Regions from separate parts of the Homo sapiens genome. Here region 1 is linked to region 2. Evidence: fine-mapped expression QTL. A gene starts in region 2. The other region holds a variant in brackets. All regions are shown on one strand. Distances are from middle to middle.

Region 1 (8,782 bases), 67 kb after region 2:
GCTGAATAACAGTACAGGTGGTAAATATGAAAACTAGAGGGATATAGTTACATTGATATTAGAGTTTAAATTCGAGACTTAAAGTCACTCAGCAAAAAGTTTTTTAAAGATTAAAAAAAACTAAATACTCAACTCGCAAAGCAAGACAGACTCATCATAAATCCAAAAAAAAATGGAAGCAGGAAAATAATAAAGTTAAGAGCCAAAATTAATTAAATACAACACAAAAAATTATACTGTGTATTAATAATACTAAAAGATGGGCTTTATAAACATAGTAGGATAAACCTGCAGTAAGACTGATCAAGAATAAAAGGCACAAATCAACATATTTAAAGCAAAAAGAGAGACATGATCTCCAAAGAGTAGAGTTTTAAAAAATGTTTAGATAAGAATATGAATTAAATGCTAGTAGATTTGAAAATGTAGATAAATTAGATAAATTATGAATTATCAAAATTGGCTTAAGAAGAAATAGAAAGCCTCAATAAACAAACAAACAAAAAGCCTAAAGAAATTCAATTCCTAATCAAAGCCTTTCCCTCCAAGAGACACAAGACCAGAGTGTTTTAAGGGTAAGTCTTCCAAAATATTCAAGTCATTCTTGATAATTCCAATGGATGCTGAAAAGACATTTGATAAAAGTCAATACCTGTTCACATTAAAAAAAAAAATACGGCCAGGCTCAGTGGCTCACACCTATAATCCTAGTGCTTTGGGAGGCTGAGTTGGAAGCCTCACTCGAGGCCAGAAGTTTGAGACCAGCCTGGACAACATAGAGAGACCCATCTCTACAAAAAAAAATTTTTTTTAATTAGCCAGGTGTGGTGGCCTGGAGTCCCTGCTACTTCGGAGGCCGAGGCAGGAGGATCCCTTGACCCCAGGAGTTAAGGCTGCAATGAACACCACTGTGCTCCAGCCTGGGCAACAGAGCAAGACCTTGTCCCTAAAAAATAGATGAATAAATAAATAAATAAATAAATACATAAATAAATAAATAAATAAAATAAAAATTTTTTAAGTTTAGGAAATTGGGAATAGGAGATGACACCCTTAATCTTATAACCTATATTATTAAACATGATACAAAATCTATTAAACATCATAATTAACAGTATAACTTGAGAATCATTAACAATACAGTAAAAAATGAAATAAAGACACCTACCATCACTGCTTATGTTCAACATTAAACAGTGGGTTCCGGCTAATACCGTAAGATAGAAGAATAAAGCAAATAATAATAGAAAAAGATGACCTAAAACTGTCCTTATCCCCAGGTGGTGTGATTTTCAACATAGAGAACAAACCTAAGCATTCTACAAACTATTATAACTGATAAGTGATATTAGCAACATTTAAAAATTAATAATTTACATCTCCACTGGCAATTACCAATTAGAGATTATGATAGAATATGATAGAAAAATAATTCCATTTATAATAGCAAGGAAAACTATAAAGAATCTATGTATAAATGTAACAAAAATGTTTAAGACACATTTGTTGGAAAAATCACAAAGTATTCATAATATACATAATGAATAAAACACATTAATAAAGAAATAAGTACAAAGTCCATGGATAAAAAGAATATTATTAAGACACTAATTCAACCCAAATAAAATCTTATAAATTCAATACAACTCCGATCAAAATGTTAACACAATTTTTTATGAATTTGATAAGTAGATCTAGAATTCATATGAAGAGCTAAGAATCACAAAAAGGCCAGGCATGGTGGCTAACGCCTGTAATCCCAACTTTGGGAGGCTGAGGTGGATGGATCACCTGAGATCGGGGGTTTACCAGCCTGGCCAACATGGTGAAACTCCATCTCTACTAAAAATATAACAATTAGCTGGGCATGGTGGCAGGTGCCACCTGGGCATGAGGCAGGAGAATGGCTTGAATCCAGTAGGCACAGGTTGCAGTAAGCCGAGACCGTGCCACCACTGCACTCCAGCCTGGGCAACAGGAGCAAAACTCCATCTCAAAATAAAAGAATCACAAATAAATCAATTTAAAGCCATGATTTAAATAGAGTAATTTTGCCTTAGGAATTACACACAGACACACAGCTACACACACACACATACACACAACACACACACATTCTGTCTCATGAGTCTGAAAACAGACCCATGCATACATGAAAACTTGATATATGACAGAGGTGGAATTATACATGCGTGGAAAACATAATCATTTAACAAAGGGTGACACCAATCTGGAAAAGAGAAACCACTTAATTCCCTACCAAAAAAAAAAAAATCATTTCCAAGTAAATTAAGGCCTACATGTGAAAAGTAACGTTTTTAGAAGGCAATATAGAAAATCTCTATGACTTTGTAGAAAACAAATCATAAGGAAAAGATTTGACCTCAGTAGAAGTTAAAATTTAATATCTTTTATGCATAAACCTATAAAGGGTTAAAATTAGCATTTATACATGGCTTTCAATTTAAGGAAAAAATGACAGTAGAGAAATGGCTAAAACACATGAGCAGGCAATATACAGAAGAGGAAAGGGAAATGATCAATAGACAGAAAAGAAATGCTCAATCTCACCAGTAACCCCAGAATTCTCAACTACAAGAGGGAGAAACGATCTCTTGTTCATCATATTGCAAAAGTTTGAAAACAAGTGTTGGTAAGAATTAGGGGGCGATCGGAACTCTCACTTAGCATGAGAAAGCAATTTGGAAATAGTAAGGGTAAAAATGTAGGTCTTCAACCCAGAATTTCTACTATTAAATATATATTCTACGAAAACTCTCACACACATATTGTACACAGAAACATGTACAAAAATGTTAATTGCAACAATGTTTATCACAGCAAAACACTGGGGAAAAAAATCCATCCACCAAATGAGTGGAAAAATAAATTATGACATATTTATTGAATTCATGTCTATTATACAGCAGTCAAATTAACTGGAGCTACATGTATCAACATTAGTAATTCTCAAAAGCATGCTGATTACCAAGAAAGGAAGTGGCAATATAACTACAAGATAATATGTACAGAAAATTTGAGAACATGCAAAACAATACATATTATTGGCACATTTGTATGTTATGATAGAATCAAAAGATGCTTGGAAGTTATGAACACAAAATTCAGTGTTCATCTGGGAAAGGAGAAAATGAAATCACAGAAGAATACACTGGAGGCTTCAAATCTATCAGAAGTGGTTTTAATGCTTTTTAAAACCTGAAGTAAACATAATAAAATGTTATGATCCGATTAAGCTGGGTGTTGGATAAATGGATGTTTGTATAATCTGTATTTTCACAAGAATCACTTCAGTCTGGGTATCATTAAGCTGCTATCAAACTGTGGCAGGACATACAGAAAGATCTGCCAATAATTCAAAATAGAATCAGGCAGGAAATAGATTTAAACATGCTGTGAAGTAAACTGGGCAGGAGGCTACAGATTTCATATCAGGCCAGAGGGTTAAGTAATGGTATATTTTAAACTCAAAAGAGATAAATCCTTTCCAAAAGATAAGGACTTGGGATCCCTGTTTTTAATGACTATTAAAAACTAAGTCAATGTTTCGCTGAGCGGCTCCAGGAGGGTCAGATCTAGTGTAGGACCCAAAATCTCTGGCCCATAATTTTTTTTCTGAAATCTCTCCCCCAATTTGATTGGGGTAATAACTCTTATTGGCTTGGGATGGTAAAATTGTTTTCCTCATGGGTGTCTTTTAACCCTAGGACATTTTTGAATTAGATACAAAGATGAAGAAATAAATCAAACTACATATATATTAATACTTCTGTGTTACATTCAGGAATCTGTTTGGATAATCATTGGAACAACGTGTGTATATTTGGTATCTAAAGTGACTGTAAAGAGGGCTGGGCACGGTGGCTCAGGCCCATAATCCCAGCACTTTGGGAGGCTGAGGAGGCCAGGTCACTTAAGCCTAGGAGTTTGAGACCAATCTGGGCAACATAGAGAGACCCCCCACATCTCTATAAAAAAATACAAAAATTAGCTGGGTATGGTGGTGTACACCTGTGGCCCCAGGTAGGGAGGCTGAGGCAGGAAGTTTGCCTGAGCCTGGGAGGCAGAGGTTGCAGTGAGCCGAGACTGCAGCACTGCACCCCAGCATGGGCAATAGAGCCCGATCTTGTCTCCAGAAAAAAGAAAGAAAGAAAGAAAGTGACTGTAGAGATTTTGGGGGGACATAAGATAATCATAAAGATTAGAGCTGTGATTCCATTTTACAACATGCATTTGAGTAATTGATTTTATCATTGCAAGTTGAAAGGTATGAGACTTTAGCTAATTTTTTAAACTACACTGAATTTTTTTAAAGATTTGTCATATTTATCAATTTGTTTTTATCACACTTAATAGAATTGTTCAAGAACTTGGGAAGGCTATTCTTGTTAGGGGCATTTGAAGTGCTGAAAAGAAAAGCAATTATGCTAAACTTATAAATACAGTTTTAATGATTGAAGGAATTTAATTAACTGAGTTGTAAACAGAACTGATTGTTTAAGGGGATATGTTCTATTCACCTTGCATTAATTCAACTTTAATCAAAGGAAAATTTAAAATTTTTGCATGTATTTTACCAATTTTATGAATAGGTTTGTAACTTGAACTTAAAAGATTAAGAAAAATCTATTTTTAATTTATAATTTTAATAAGTCAAGTACTAATGTTAACATCCTGAAACTAATCTTCTGTGTACAAATGACTCCCTTTAGGAACACTCAAAAGCTCCAGTTATATTCTGTAATTGTGGTCATAATAAAAAAAAATTCCCTCTCAATTCTTTTCTTAAATAAAAGAAACATTCAGGTTATCTGTAAATAAAACTATAAAATTTATTGGAAAAGTTTTAAAATCTTGAATATCAAGAGAAATAGCATCCTAGCTGAAAAATTCAGTATGAAACCTACTGAGTTTTTTGTGTTTTGTTTTGTTTTGTTTTGTTTTTTGAGATGGAGTCTCACTCTGTCACCCAGGCTGGAGTGCAGTGGCATGATCTTGGCTCACTGCAACCTCCGCCTCCCGGGTTCAAGCGATTCTCCTGCCTCAGCCTCCTGAGTAGCTGGGACTATAGGCGCCTGCCACCA[C/T]GCCCAGCTAATTTTTGTATTTTTAGTAGAGACAGGGTTTCACCCTGTTGGCCAGGTTGGTCTCAAACTCCTGACCTCAAGTGATCCGCCCGCCTCAGCCTCCCAAAGTGCTGGGATTACAGGCATGAGCCACCACGCCTGGCCAAGATTTTTTTTTTTAATAGCAAAATTATCCTAAGGTACATCCCAAAAATAAAGAATCACTAATTACTAAAAATGTTTGAAAAAGAAAATTAGTAAGAAGTGACTTGCTCTGCCAAATATTAACAAGTATCATAAATCTCTATTACTCTAAAAGGATGGTTCAAAATAAAAAAAATAAAAAATAAATAAAATAAAAGGATGGTACTGGAACCATAATAGGTAAGCAAACCAAAGAACCTAAAAGAAAGCTCAGAAATAAATCTGTGTGTATCTGTTACTGAAAGCACCTCTATTTGTAAATATTGAATAAAACAAAGGTATATTTTGGGATGCTTCCTTCCTACTCATAATATTTCCTTTCAGGTGGAGGAGGCTGCACTGCAGCCACCTCTCCAGCCTCTTCTCACCCCTTACTCACTCCTCTCTGGAGAGAGCAAGTGACATGGATCTAAAAGTTTTGGGGGAAGATGCAATGTGCTTATCCTAACTCTGCTCTTCCCTTACTTGGGAGGGAGCTGCACATGGGGAGCAGGCACTGTTCCCATTCCAGGGGCAGGCTCCCCTTGCACACCAGGAGGGCTGCCTGGTCTCATTTTCCACTCATGGAGTGGGTTTATCTGCCAGACGCAGCGCCCATCAGCAGAAGCTTTGGGCATTCTCCAGTTTAACCTTTATCAGTAATAAAAGACTGGCCTTCATCATCCCAATTTCGTCAGGACCCATGTGAAGAAGAAAAATGCCTTCCAGAAACCCTCATGGTAGGTGCATGGGCCAAAAGCATTTAGGGAAGAAATCTTGTTCCCTTTCGACACTTTGAGTCCAACCAGAAAGGCAACTAAAACTAAGTATGCTTGATTGTTTTCCCCAACTTACTAAATAAAAAAGTCACTCAACCTCTTCAGGAGTGGAGTGAGGAAGTGGATGGAGAGAAATCAGAAGTACCATACCAATGGCGTTCCTTCACCTGGGAGGAAATATCTAGAATAGATAATAGCAATTTCTCTATCATGCAATATTCCATCTTAATGAGAAGAGGATTTTTTTTTTTTTTTTGAGACAGAGTCTGGCTTTGTCGCCCAGGCTAGAGTGCAGTGGCACGATCTTGACTCACTGTACCCTCCACCTCCCGGGTTCAAGTGATTCTCCTGTCTCAGCCTCCTGAGTAGCTGGGATTACAGGCACCTGCCACCGCGCCTAGCTAAATTTTGTATTTTTAGTAGAGACAGTGTTTCACCATGTTGGCCAGGCTGGTCTCAAACTCCTGACCTCAGATGATCTGCCCACCTCGGTCTCCCAAAGTTCTGGGATTACAGGCGTGAGCCACTGCGCCCAGCCCAGAGGATGTTTTAATCAATAAAATAGTGCCAGGGAAATTGGTTAACTAATTGATAAAAACAAAGTTTAATTCCTACCTCACATCATACATTCAAGTAAGTTACACATGGATTAAAGTATTAAATGGGAGGCAACTGTGCCACAAATTGATAAACATATAAGTAAATATTTACCAAACCCAGGGTTAGAAAAGGAATTTCTAAGCATTAAGGCAAAAGAAAGACAAATTAAAAGACTAAGAATTATTATATCAAAATGTAAAACTTTTGTATGTAAAGAAATAACATTTATCAAATGAAAAATCAAGTTACTGGGTTCCATGAGGACCCAGCAGAGACTGAAGGAGAGAAAGAGTAGAAGATCAGAAGGAGCTCTCAGGGAGTAGGATCTAGGGAGGATGCTAATTTCACTTCTGAAGTCATAGAGAAGATAAGACAACTATCACAAAACCTGTAGTACTACTGTTCAAATCTGCTTCCAGTAGCAGTGGAGTGAAGTCATTGGTGAATCCTTTCCTAGACAATAACGAAATGCAGACAAATTCTTTTTTTTTTTTTTTGACAGAGTCTCACTCTTTATCACCCAGGCTGGAGTTCAGTGGCATGACCTCGGCTCACTGCAACCTCCACCCCCCAGGTTCAAGCAATTCTCCTGCCTCAGCCTCTCCAGTAGCTGGGATTACAGGCACCCACCACTATGCACGGCTAATTTTTGTATTTTTAGTGGAGACGGGATTTCACCACATTGGCCAGGCTGGTCTCAAATTCCTGACCTCAAGTGATCCACCTGCCTTGGCCTCCCAAAGTGCTGGAATTACAGGTGTGAGCCAACACACCTGGCCAACAAATTCTTTTTTTAATAACCAACTATTTGAAGAAACTAGTAGATAGAAGTCAGAGAACAGCCTACCCTTAAATGACTGTAACTGTTTCCAGTAAAAATTGCAAGTTTATGGTTGTTGATTTTGTGGGGTGGGGAGTTGTTTGCTTGTTTTCTGCCTCAGAACATTCCCTAACCCTCACAGCTATAGCAGAAGAAATAAATCAACCTTACCAATTCAAGATGGCAGAGGAAGGAGTGCAAGAGTGGTAGAAGAGGAAATTTAGGGTTAAAATCCTGGAAGTGAGAAAATTGAAGAAAGTGTGAGACCAAAAATCTGAGTGCATACTATACCCCAAAGCCCTGGATGATGACAAAACTATGGATGGATGTGGAGGAAGGGCAGGGTACCTAAGAAAAGCAAACAGAAACCAGAAAGGCATTTACCCTTGAAAGACAGAGCTGTATTAGATGAGTTTGAGAGTTTTCTCCTTTTTTGACAGTGGAATCCCCAACCAGCAAACAGGTAAGCAACAAAAAGCTTAAGCCTTACTGGATTGAAGTATTGAAGGACTGGGCTCTGGAATGACAGAAGAGTCAAGAATTTAGAAAACTCTAGAAGCAAAGAAGCTGTAGAGAGTGTATGCCCCTAAATCTGAGTATAAACTCTGCACAAATCCTTGGCTAACCATCAAAGCATGCAGACACCAAGAAGACACAAATACATACATACATACACACACACACACACACACACAAACACACACACACACGGAACTGAAAGAACTGAGAAGATATACAAGTTACTGCACACTGCAGAGGAAGCAGAGTTTGCAGTTTGAGTCAAGGCAATTAACTATGTACTACAACAAAACAATTCTCAGAAGAATATAACAGAATCTATAATCACTAGTACATTTATTCTGCACTACTCAGTCTTTGACCAAAAATTACCAGGTATGCAAAGAAATAGGAAAATAAAGTAGTCAATAGAAATTGACTATCAGTGGCCCAAGATATTGGATTTGGCAAAGATTTCAAATCATTTTTATAAATATGTTTAAAGTATTAAAAGATGTGTGAATGATTAAATGAAAATATAGTCCTAATGAGTGGACTGAGTGTCATCAGATAAATGGAAATCATTAAGAATTCTAGAGCTGAAAAGTATAATAACTAATATAAAAAATGTACTAAATGCATTCAACAGTAGAATGAAGATGGAGGAAAAATCAGTGAATTTCCAAATAAATCAGTAGAAATTATCCAATTCAAATAGTAGATATAAAAAATTTTGAAGAAAAGAGTCTAAGAGATATGTGGAAAAATATTGTGCAGTCCAACATTTTGTAATTGGAGTCCCAGATGGAAAAGAAGAT
Region 2 (8,782 bases):
TAAATGCACAACATGCCCAAGCAACAACAAAATCAAACCCAATGTGCTGGCTCATACAACTTCACCCAGTAAAACCAGGCAGAGAGGGAAACAACAATGCATCAGCCTGGGAGTTCACAGTTCTAATGGAAGTGCCAAATTCAAAAATGACTTCCCTAGAAAAAGAGCAATTGCCTCTTCCCTAACAGGAGCTTCTATGGCTTGGGTATCAGCCTTTGCAGGGGAAAAATGTCAAGTCATTTCTCATTATCAGGTTTCTCCTTAATAACACATGACCACAGACAGCTGGCCAATAATCCAAAACTGAATTTGCCCAAGTGTGTGAACAGAAACCAGTATGCAAAGATATGACACTGCTTTGAAAATGCATTTTAATTTTAAAGAATAAAAGCATAAAGAATAAACGAATAAAAGAGTAGTGCATGCATACTTATTCTCATTGGAAAGTGCCAGTTACGACCCCACAGCCACAAGCCATAAGGTTATGAGGATCAGTAGTCTGGTTTGTCTTGACCTGCCCTCTACACACCTACACACACACACACACACACACACACGCCCCACCCTCCCCTCCACAGGGACCTCGCAGGAAATCACGTGGGGCTCCCTTACACCAGGGATTGCAGTCCTGGGGAGGGTGGTGTGCCATCTCAGGGCAGAGCCCCCCACCAAAACCACTGAGGGGAAAACCAGTCCCAAGCCCCACTCCCGACCGGCCCTCTCCCCACTTTTCTCTTTGCTCCTCAAAGACCTGTCTTGGGAGGGTGACTACCTGAGCGCTGCTGGGAGGAGTGGAGGTGAGTGAGGACGGTTCCAAGCCAGGCTGAGAAGGGCGCCGACCAGTGGAACTGCAGCCAAGGGGCAAAAGGTGTCCGGAAGACAGCGATTATGGGGTTTCCCCATCCCATCACAGCCTTTTGGGGGCTGGGGTGAGGGATTCTTTCCTCTCTTCTTCAGGCAACCCGTCCAATCCCCCCATGTTCCCTGTGGACTGCAGCACCTTTTCCGCAGCCGAGCCCCCTAAGGTGTCCACTCATGTCTGCAGACGGTCCCAGAAAGAGACCATCGGAAGCCATTGGGAATGGACTCCAGGTCAGGGCTGGGCACAGCCTCACAGGGCAGGGCTGGGCTAATCCCCGCTGGCTGAGGAAGGGGAGAAGGAAATTCCCGCAGGCTGCAGGGGATGGGTGCAAGCCAACAGAACACAAGGCGCTTTGTTTGCTCCAGGTAACTGCTCAGTTCTCGCTCACAAAGTGCAGATGCATCCGCTACCCTCACTCCACTCCCAACACCAGAGTTGACTCTGAGAGCAGCGGTGCCCAGACCTGGCCACTGCGGGCAATCAGTGCCGTTCCCATCCAGCCATCCAACGACAGTCACTGTGGACCCATCTCCACCCTCCCTAGAATAAGCAAAAGCATCTAAAATTTGGGGTATCCCTTTCCCCCACCTGCCCAAATCCTCACTCTGAGGAGCCAGGTGACTGCACTCCCCTCTTTTAGCATCAATAACAGAGGTTAAAGACACTTTAAGGTGAGCTAAGTGTAGGCAGTCTTTCTCCCCCACCCTAAAGGCCCTCCTCAAAAAGCCCTCAGGAAGCCTGCGTCTGTGCTAAGCGCAGCTGGGGTACAGCTCCCCAATCCCTGACCCTCTCCACACCTCAGAGCCTAAACTTCGCTTCTAAAGAATTCTGGGTTGAATTTACTTCTATAGAAGTCAGGTCTGTGATGTGTATATTTTATCTTTATATCTATTTCATTTTATTTGACTTCCCAGGATTTTTTTTTCTTCCCCCTCAAGAATTGCTCTTTAAACATAAGGGGGTTTTGAGAGGAACCTCGGGCCGGTCCCTCAGGCTGTTAGGAAAGTCTGCATTTTGCAGAGCTGCTCTCCCCGGGAGGAGATGAACAATGAGCTAATTACATTTTTATCTTTCTAATGAGCTGAGGATTTGTGTAAATGAGAAAAGCAGGGGGTACGCTAGAGGGAGGGAGAAAAGACTTTCCACCCCCAGCCCTCCGAGGGCAGAGCTGGTACCTGGAAGGGGTGGAGAAACAGAAGTCCCCACGGTTCCTAAACTTTCTCAGCCAGTTTTGCAGCAATCCCAAGGCTACTTGACTGAATGACCAGTGAAGGAAAGGGCTTGGTTTTATTTTTTAAATCTTTGTCGAACCTATGAAAATAAACAAAAGCTGCTCCAAGCATTCTCTCGGCCTTTCTGAACTTTCTACGCTTTGGGTTTTTGTTTTTTCCTCCCGTCTCAGAGGTTAAAAACTTCGATAGGGACTCGGAGTCCTCCTAGAGGAGAGGGAAGCTCCCCTGTTATTTAAAGCGCAAGGCTTTGTTTCAGGTATGGGAAAGGCGAAGTTGGATCCCAGGAAGAGCGGCTCCGGGGACCACAGCGAGTCCCTGCGAGGCCAAGGCGCAGAGCTGCCGCTCCCGGGCCAGCCCCGCCGTGCACCTGGGTCGCGAGGGGCGCTGAGCGATACCTGGGACAGACCAGACGCGCTTAGGAATCACGTGCACAGCATGCGAGCAACCTCGGGCCCTCAGTCCCCAGCACCGGGACCCAGCGGCGGGCGGGCGTAGGGTGGCGCGGGTTCTCCTGCAGCTCCGGCCGGGGGATGGAGGGGGCGGCTCGCGCACGTGGGAGGAGGCAGCCTTACCTTGGGGCTTGGAGGCTTCGGTGGCATTGGGCGGCGTCATGGCGATGCAGACGTCCCCCTCGGGGAACTTGTCACACTTAAGCATCTCGGGCCAGTAGAAGCCGAAGAACTGCATGACCGGCTCGCACGAGTCGCGCACGGCCTCGCAGAGCCAGCGACACGGGTAGATGGGCCGGTCCAGGCAGACGGGCGCGAAGAGCGAGCAGAGGAAGACCTGGGTGCCGGCGTGGCAGTTCTTGTTGAGCAGGGGCACCCAGCTGCTGGCCTGCTGCTTCACCTCCGCCATGGTCTCGTGCTCCAGCAGGTTGGGCAGCACCATCTTCTTGTAGCCCACGTTGTGGCACAGCCGCAGGTCCGCGGGGATGTCCACGCACTGAGGTGGCTTGGTGTAGAAGCGCCCGCTCTGGTACGGGCCGATGTCCGACTGGAAGCTCACGTAGTCGTACTCGCTGGCCGAGCCCACGGCCAGAAGCGCCGCGCCCAGCGCCAGCAGCACGCCCAGGGCTGCCCCGCGGCGGCCCCCCTCGCTGCGCCCGATGCCCATGCCGGCTCTGCGCCCTGTTCTCCGCGACGTCGGGGCTGCCTCCGCCGCCTCCCCGCGCGCGTCCTGCCGCAAACTTCCAGGGACCTCCGGGGACAAAAGGCGCAGTCCCCAGCGTTGCCCGGCTCCGCGGCCGCAAGCTGCTGCCCGGTCCCCCCGGCCAGTGGCGGCCCTCGGCCTGCGGTCGGAGGCGGCGCGGGCGGGGAGGCGGCGCTGCGGGCTGGGTGCGCCCCGGCTCCCGGAGGTGCGGCGAGCAGGAAGGCGCGGGGCGGCGGGCGCGCGGCACTGACTCCGGAGGCTGCAGGGCTGGAGTGCGCGGGGCTCCTACGGCCGAGCCCTCGGAGCCGCCCCGCGCAGCCAATCAGCTCCCGGCGGGGCGAGCCGCACTCGTTACCACGTCCGTCACCGGCGCGGGAGCCAATCGCCTCCCTCGCGAGCGGGTTCGGTTTACTAGAACCAGACGCGGCTCAACACCCCTTAAAAAACAAAACCAAAAATACATAAATAAAAGGGGGAGGAGGAAAGAGACAAGGGGAGAAAAAGAAGGGGAATGGATCACGGCGTGGGGTGGAGAGAGACCAGGGCGGACGCTGTAATTAACTCGCATTGGCTTGCAGAGAAGCGGGGAGCCTGGATCATACTTGCAAACCCATGAAATTATGAAGACTTTTTTTTTTTGAGACAGTTTCGCTCTTGTTGCCTAAGCTGGAGTGCAATGGCGCTATCTCCGCTGACTGCAACCTCCGCCTCCCGGGTTCAAGCGATTCTCCTGCCTCAGCCTCCCGAGTAGCTGGGATTACAGCCGCGTGCCACCATGCCCCCGCTAATTTTTTGTATTTTTAGTAGAGACGGGGTTTCACCATGTTAGCCAGGCTGGTCTCGAACTCCTGACCTCAGGTGATGCTCCTGCCTTGGCCTCCCAAACTTTTTTTTTCTTTTTCTTTACACTGCTTCCTAATTTCAACCAACAGCCCTTTAGACTAGCGGCTCCTCTCCTCGGTTCTCTAGCTGCGGTGCAGACAGGTGGTTTCCCAACTAACAGGGGTTCAGGAAGGCTGAAGCGAGGGAGGTCTGCTTGTAAATACCCAGTGGGCCTGGCTGGGCTCCCTGGAAGGCGAGGCGAAGGCGCAGTTGGAGCTGTTTGCTGTGAGCAGCACCTCTCCAGGTGGGGCCGCCCATGGTGGCCCTCAACACTGGGGCAGTGGGTGGACTTTGCCCGGTGTGGCGGCAGGAAGAGCTGCTAGCAACGGTATTAGCTCTGGGAGGACACTTTTTTAAATATATAATATATATTTAAATAGAAAAACCCTACTCAAGTCCTAGCCCGGGCGACAGCACATCTGTGTGTTTGTGGTGTGGAAAGCCAAAACATTAAAAACACATGTGCACTTATCAGCGTGGCTGGTGTAAATACCAAGTCCATCACTCAGGCACACATGCTAAGGTTAGACCCAGTCCAGGAACTTCAAGTTAAAATCAAGGGTCCCCACTAGGGCAGACGCCAAGAGGACGGTATCAGCACAACAGCTCGGCCCCCAGGAACAGAAGTCTCTCTGCCACCTTCTACCTCGAATTCCTGAGAATTCTTCGTAGGTTTCAAACATTCCCCTGAGAGGGAGGGTTAAGCTCTGGAGAGCTGGGAGTGAGACCCGGACTATCCCGGGACAGAAGACCACAGCAAATAGTTCATGAAGTTCCTGGAGTCTCCATATCTTCTGTCCCTAAGTGCGGGTGGAGAGAGGCTGATATATTCATAGCCCAGTCTGAGCGCACACCCCATGTGGCAAAGGGGTCACAGATCTTAGCGCTCCACAGAGACACTATAGGGCGCGCTGCCTTGCCCGCCAGCTTGTTTGTAAAGCTCTAGGGAGCTTGCTTTGGACTCTGCAAACCTAATTTCTTGATGGACAGATTCCAAGTGAAATGACTAGAGTTTGTGAAGAAGCAGGGCTGTTTTCTTAAAGCATTCGTGCCCGTACAGACACGGTGATTCCACGGTGCACACAGGAGGCTTCTGCAGATGGATGACTTCTCTGTCATTTCGTGGCCAATGGAAGATGCCTTGACACTCAAAAGGTGACATGGAGGCTGGAAGGAAAACACAGAGAAGAGAGAGCAAGATCGGGATGGCCAAGGGTTAATCCCAAGACAATTGGTGAGGCCGGCCTGTGGAGCTGAGGAAGACATTCCTCACAGAGAATAAGACCGCAGGAGACCCGGCAACTGTGTCTCAATTCAAGGGGCATTTAGAGAAAAATGCTGTTTGGTAGGGGGTCTTTTTGTCTCCTAGGGCCAGGCCCTCCACCTCAAGCCAAATGCGTCTGTTTGCTCACTGCAAAGATGGATGTTTGCAGATAACATCCTCTCACCTCTGAACCCAGGCTTAGCTGACCGCTCACTCACGTTTTCAGTTTTCCCGAATGGCAGGAGGACTTGTGTCTGTCCACGGTTAAATGCTGGAAATTCGTCCAGGTGACTGCCCTGGAAGTCCCAAGTCAGGAGTAAATCTCACAAATCCATTCAGGGGAAGACCTCGCCTATGTCTGGTCACTCCGAGTAGACTTTGATCACCTCCAGTCACCACCTCCCCCACTCACCCCTAGTGGTCCTACTGCTTTACTGACCCCTGCTGGGAACACAGTTGTCTCTCCGTGGAACAGGGAGTGATGGGAGAAGACCCCAAATCCTAAATCCAGTGCACTCCTGACTCCTCCCAGACCCAGCTGGAAAGGAAGGACCCTAAGACCTCAGTCCCACCGAGAGACTTTAATCCATTCCTGGGATGTGGGAGAGGGACCACCCGCCCCCCGTCCTCTCGGGAAATTCACATGCTGCATAACAGCACCAGGCAGAACAGCCTGAAGACTTTGTATTGCAGAGGTACATACAGTACTTTTGTCCTTTTACTTATTGTCAACTCTTTGCACTTCAAAATCCAGTCCCCCTTTTCCTAATGGCAAGTGTGTGTGTGTTTGTGTGTGCACGCACTCCTGTGTGTACAGCAGAAGGTTCTAGAACAAAGGCCCTTTAAACATGCAACTGACATGACAGAGCTCCCAGATATGAGGGTTCCTGAGTATGAGAACTGTGGGCCAGGAGACATATCCTCCCTCCTTTTTGAATGGCTTAAATAAACAGAGGCAAAATGCAGCTTTAACTTATGTTTCTCATTTCCCAGAAGTTCTGCTTTTCCCACACTGCTAGATGCCCATGCATGAAGCCTGAAAGTTCGTCCTCTGTTGCTTCAAAACACCAGCTTCAGGAGGCATTCTCAGTTCTTCAGCCTCCACAGAGGGTCACAGAGGGCCCCCCCAGGTGCCTCCCAGGTGGCCTCTTCCCACACGCAGAGCTTTTTCCTGGCTTCTCCTGGAAAAACTGGGAGGGGAGCCTTCCCAGCCACAGCTCCCATTGTGTTCCACTATCATATCATCAGTGATGTCTGCCATCCTCTCCAAAGATACATTCAGCTCGCTCTCCCTCAGCCAGCAGCACTAGGGAGGGAGCTCCCGCCTGAAGCTGGGTATCTGTGGGTCAGGGGCAATGCCAAGGAAAGCATGCTGGCCCACAGTCAGTGGACACAGGCTACAGCCTCAGCTCTGCTCCTAACTGGCTGGGCGACTCATGGGAATCGCACTTCCTCTCTCTGGTCTTAGTGTTCTCATCTGTGAAACAGAGCTATTAATGCCTGCCCGGCTGCCCTGCTAGCTCAGAAGTGTGAATTCTCAGCATGTAGGGTCACTCGAGGCACATCCTTAGACTTCCAGGCAAGTCTGAAGGGGCCAAAGTGGTATTCGTTGTCAGATGCCTTGAAACCTGGTCATGCTCTTACTTGGACAAGCTTCTTCTGCATTCTGCCTCTGTAGATGTGTAATCCTGATCCTTTCTAACTCTTTAAAGAACTGGCCTGACCTGCTAACTGAAGTCTGGGAATGTCTGGGAAGCATCTTAAAAATTTGGAGTTGAAGGCAAATTCCAGCCCCATCTCTTCATCTCTTCTTAGAGTAAGCACCCCTACCTCTTCATCTTTTTTTTTTTTTTTTTTTTGATACAGAGTCTCACTCTGTTCCCCAGGCTGGAGCGCAGTGGCAGGACCTTGGCTCACTGCAGCCTTGACCTCCTGGGCTCAGGCAATCCTGCCACCTCAGCCTCCCAAGTAGCTGGGACTCCAGATGCAGGCCACCACACCTAGCTTTTTTTTTTTTTTTTTTTTTTTTTTTTTTTTGAGCAATGGGATTTTGCTATGTTATCCAGGCTGGTTTTGAACTCCTAGCCCCAAGCAATCCTCCTGTCTCAGCCTCCCAGAGTGTTGGGATTACAGGGGTGAGCCACCGCACCCAGTCCTCTGCACCATTCTTGACAGAAGCTAACGGAGCATCCCTTTTATTTGTTTGGGATATAGTCACCAAGTTCAGACAATCCACTAGAATGTTCTTCCTTCCTTGAAGGGAAACTCTGCTCCCTGTAATTTCTTACTAGGCCATCCTAGGATCAGTTCCTATCGTAAGCAGCCAGGAAGACACCCTCAGCGGAGCCCCAAACTGGGAGGCCAAGGTCACCGTCCCCGCCCCTCCACTCAGACAGTCACACCTGCCCACTCTCCAGGCGAGGTTCTGTCAAACTGGGCTTGACAATTTTTGTTCATTTATTACTACATTAATTAATTTATAATTTATATTATAAATATATTCATGCCTATAAATATAATTTTTATATAAATAAATGAAGACTTGTATACCACCTCTTAGAAAGAAGAGAACTAAAAATAAAAGGCATATTTTAAGATGACTTTTTAAATAGAAATAAAAATATCAAATGGACTATTTCTCTGATTAAAATTCTCACACACTCTTTGTCCACAGGAAAAAGCCCAACCTCCAGGATAGTATCAAGACTCAGCCCTGACCCCCATGACCTCTCCAGCTTCACCTCCCCAGCACCCCCCACCAGCCTAGTTTCCAGTCTCCAGAAGTACTTGCACTTTCCCACCCAATGGCTTCTCGCTTGCCTCTCATCCTGGGCTCATGCTGTGTGCACATGCTGTTTTCTCTATCTGTAATGCCTTTCACTACTTTTGTACAAACTACTACTCATAGGGTTTCCAGATTTACAAATAAAAATACAGGACACCCATGGCCAGGCACAGTGGCTCATACCTGTAATCCCAGCACTTAGGGAAAGTAAGGCAGGAGGATTGCTTGAGGCCAGGAGTTTGAGACCAGCCCGGGCAACATAGCAAGACCCTGTTTCTACACATAATAATAATTTTTAAGAATTATCTGATTAGGCACAATTTTAAGAATTTTAAGAATTAGCTGATTAAGAATTAGCTACAGGCACAGTGGTACGTGCCGGTAGTCCCAGCTACTTAGGAGGCTGAGGCAGGAGGATCGCTTGAGCCCAGGAGTTGGAGGCTGCAGTGAGCTATGATCATACCACTGCACTCCAGCTTGGGTGACAGAATGGCACCCTGTCTTTAAAAATAAAAATTAAATTTAAATATTAAAAAATAGAACATCCAGTAAAATTTGAATTCCAGATCAACAAGAAAAAACTTATTAAGTGTGTCTCAAATATT

The links.
Region 1: its variant is fine-mapped to the expression of SFRP1 in prefrontal cortex (ROSMAP, PIP 0.95).

The regions. Positions count from the first base shown.
Region 1 is chr8:41,373,227-41,382,008 of GRCh38, forward strand. No RefSeq gene overlaps it. Among named protein-coding and RNA genes, the nearest start is that of SNORD65B, 49 kb to the right of the region's middle. The variant C/T (reference allele first, on the strand shown) is at 5,106.
Region 2 is chr8:41,305,950-41,314,731 of GRCh38, forward strand. It overlaps SFRP1 (secreted frizzled related protein 1), which reads right to left and starts at 3,524. Exons shown (of 3, transcript NM_003012.5): 1 at 2,667-3,524. The coding sequence starts at 3,210. RefSeq lists enhancers at 1,702-2,473, 2,474-3,244, 5,164-5,691.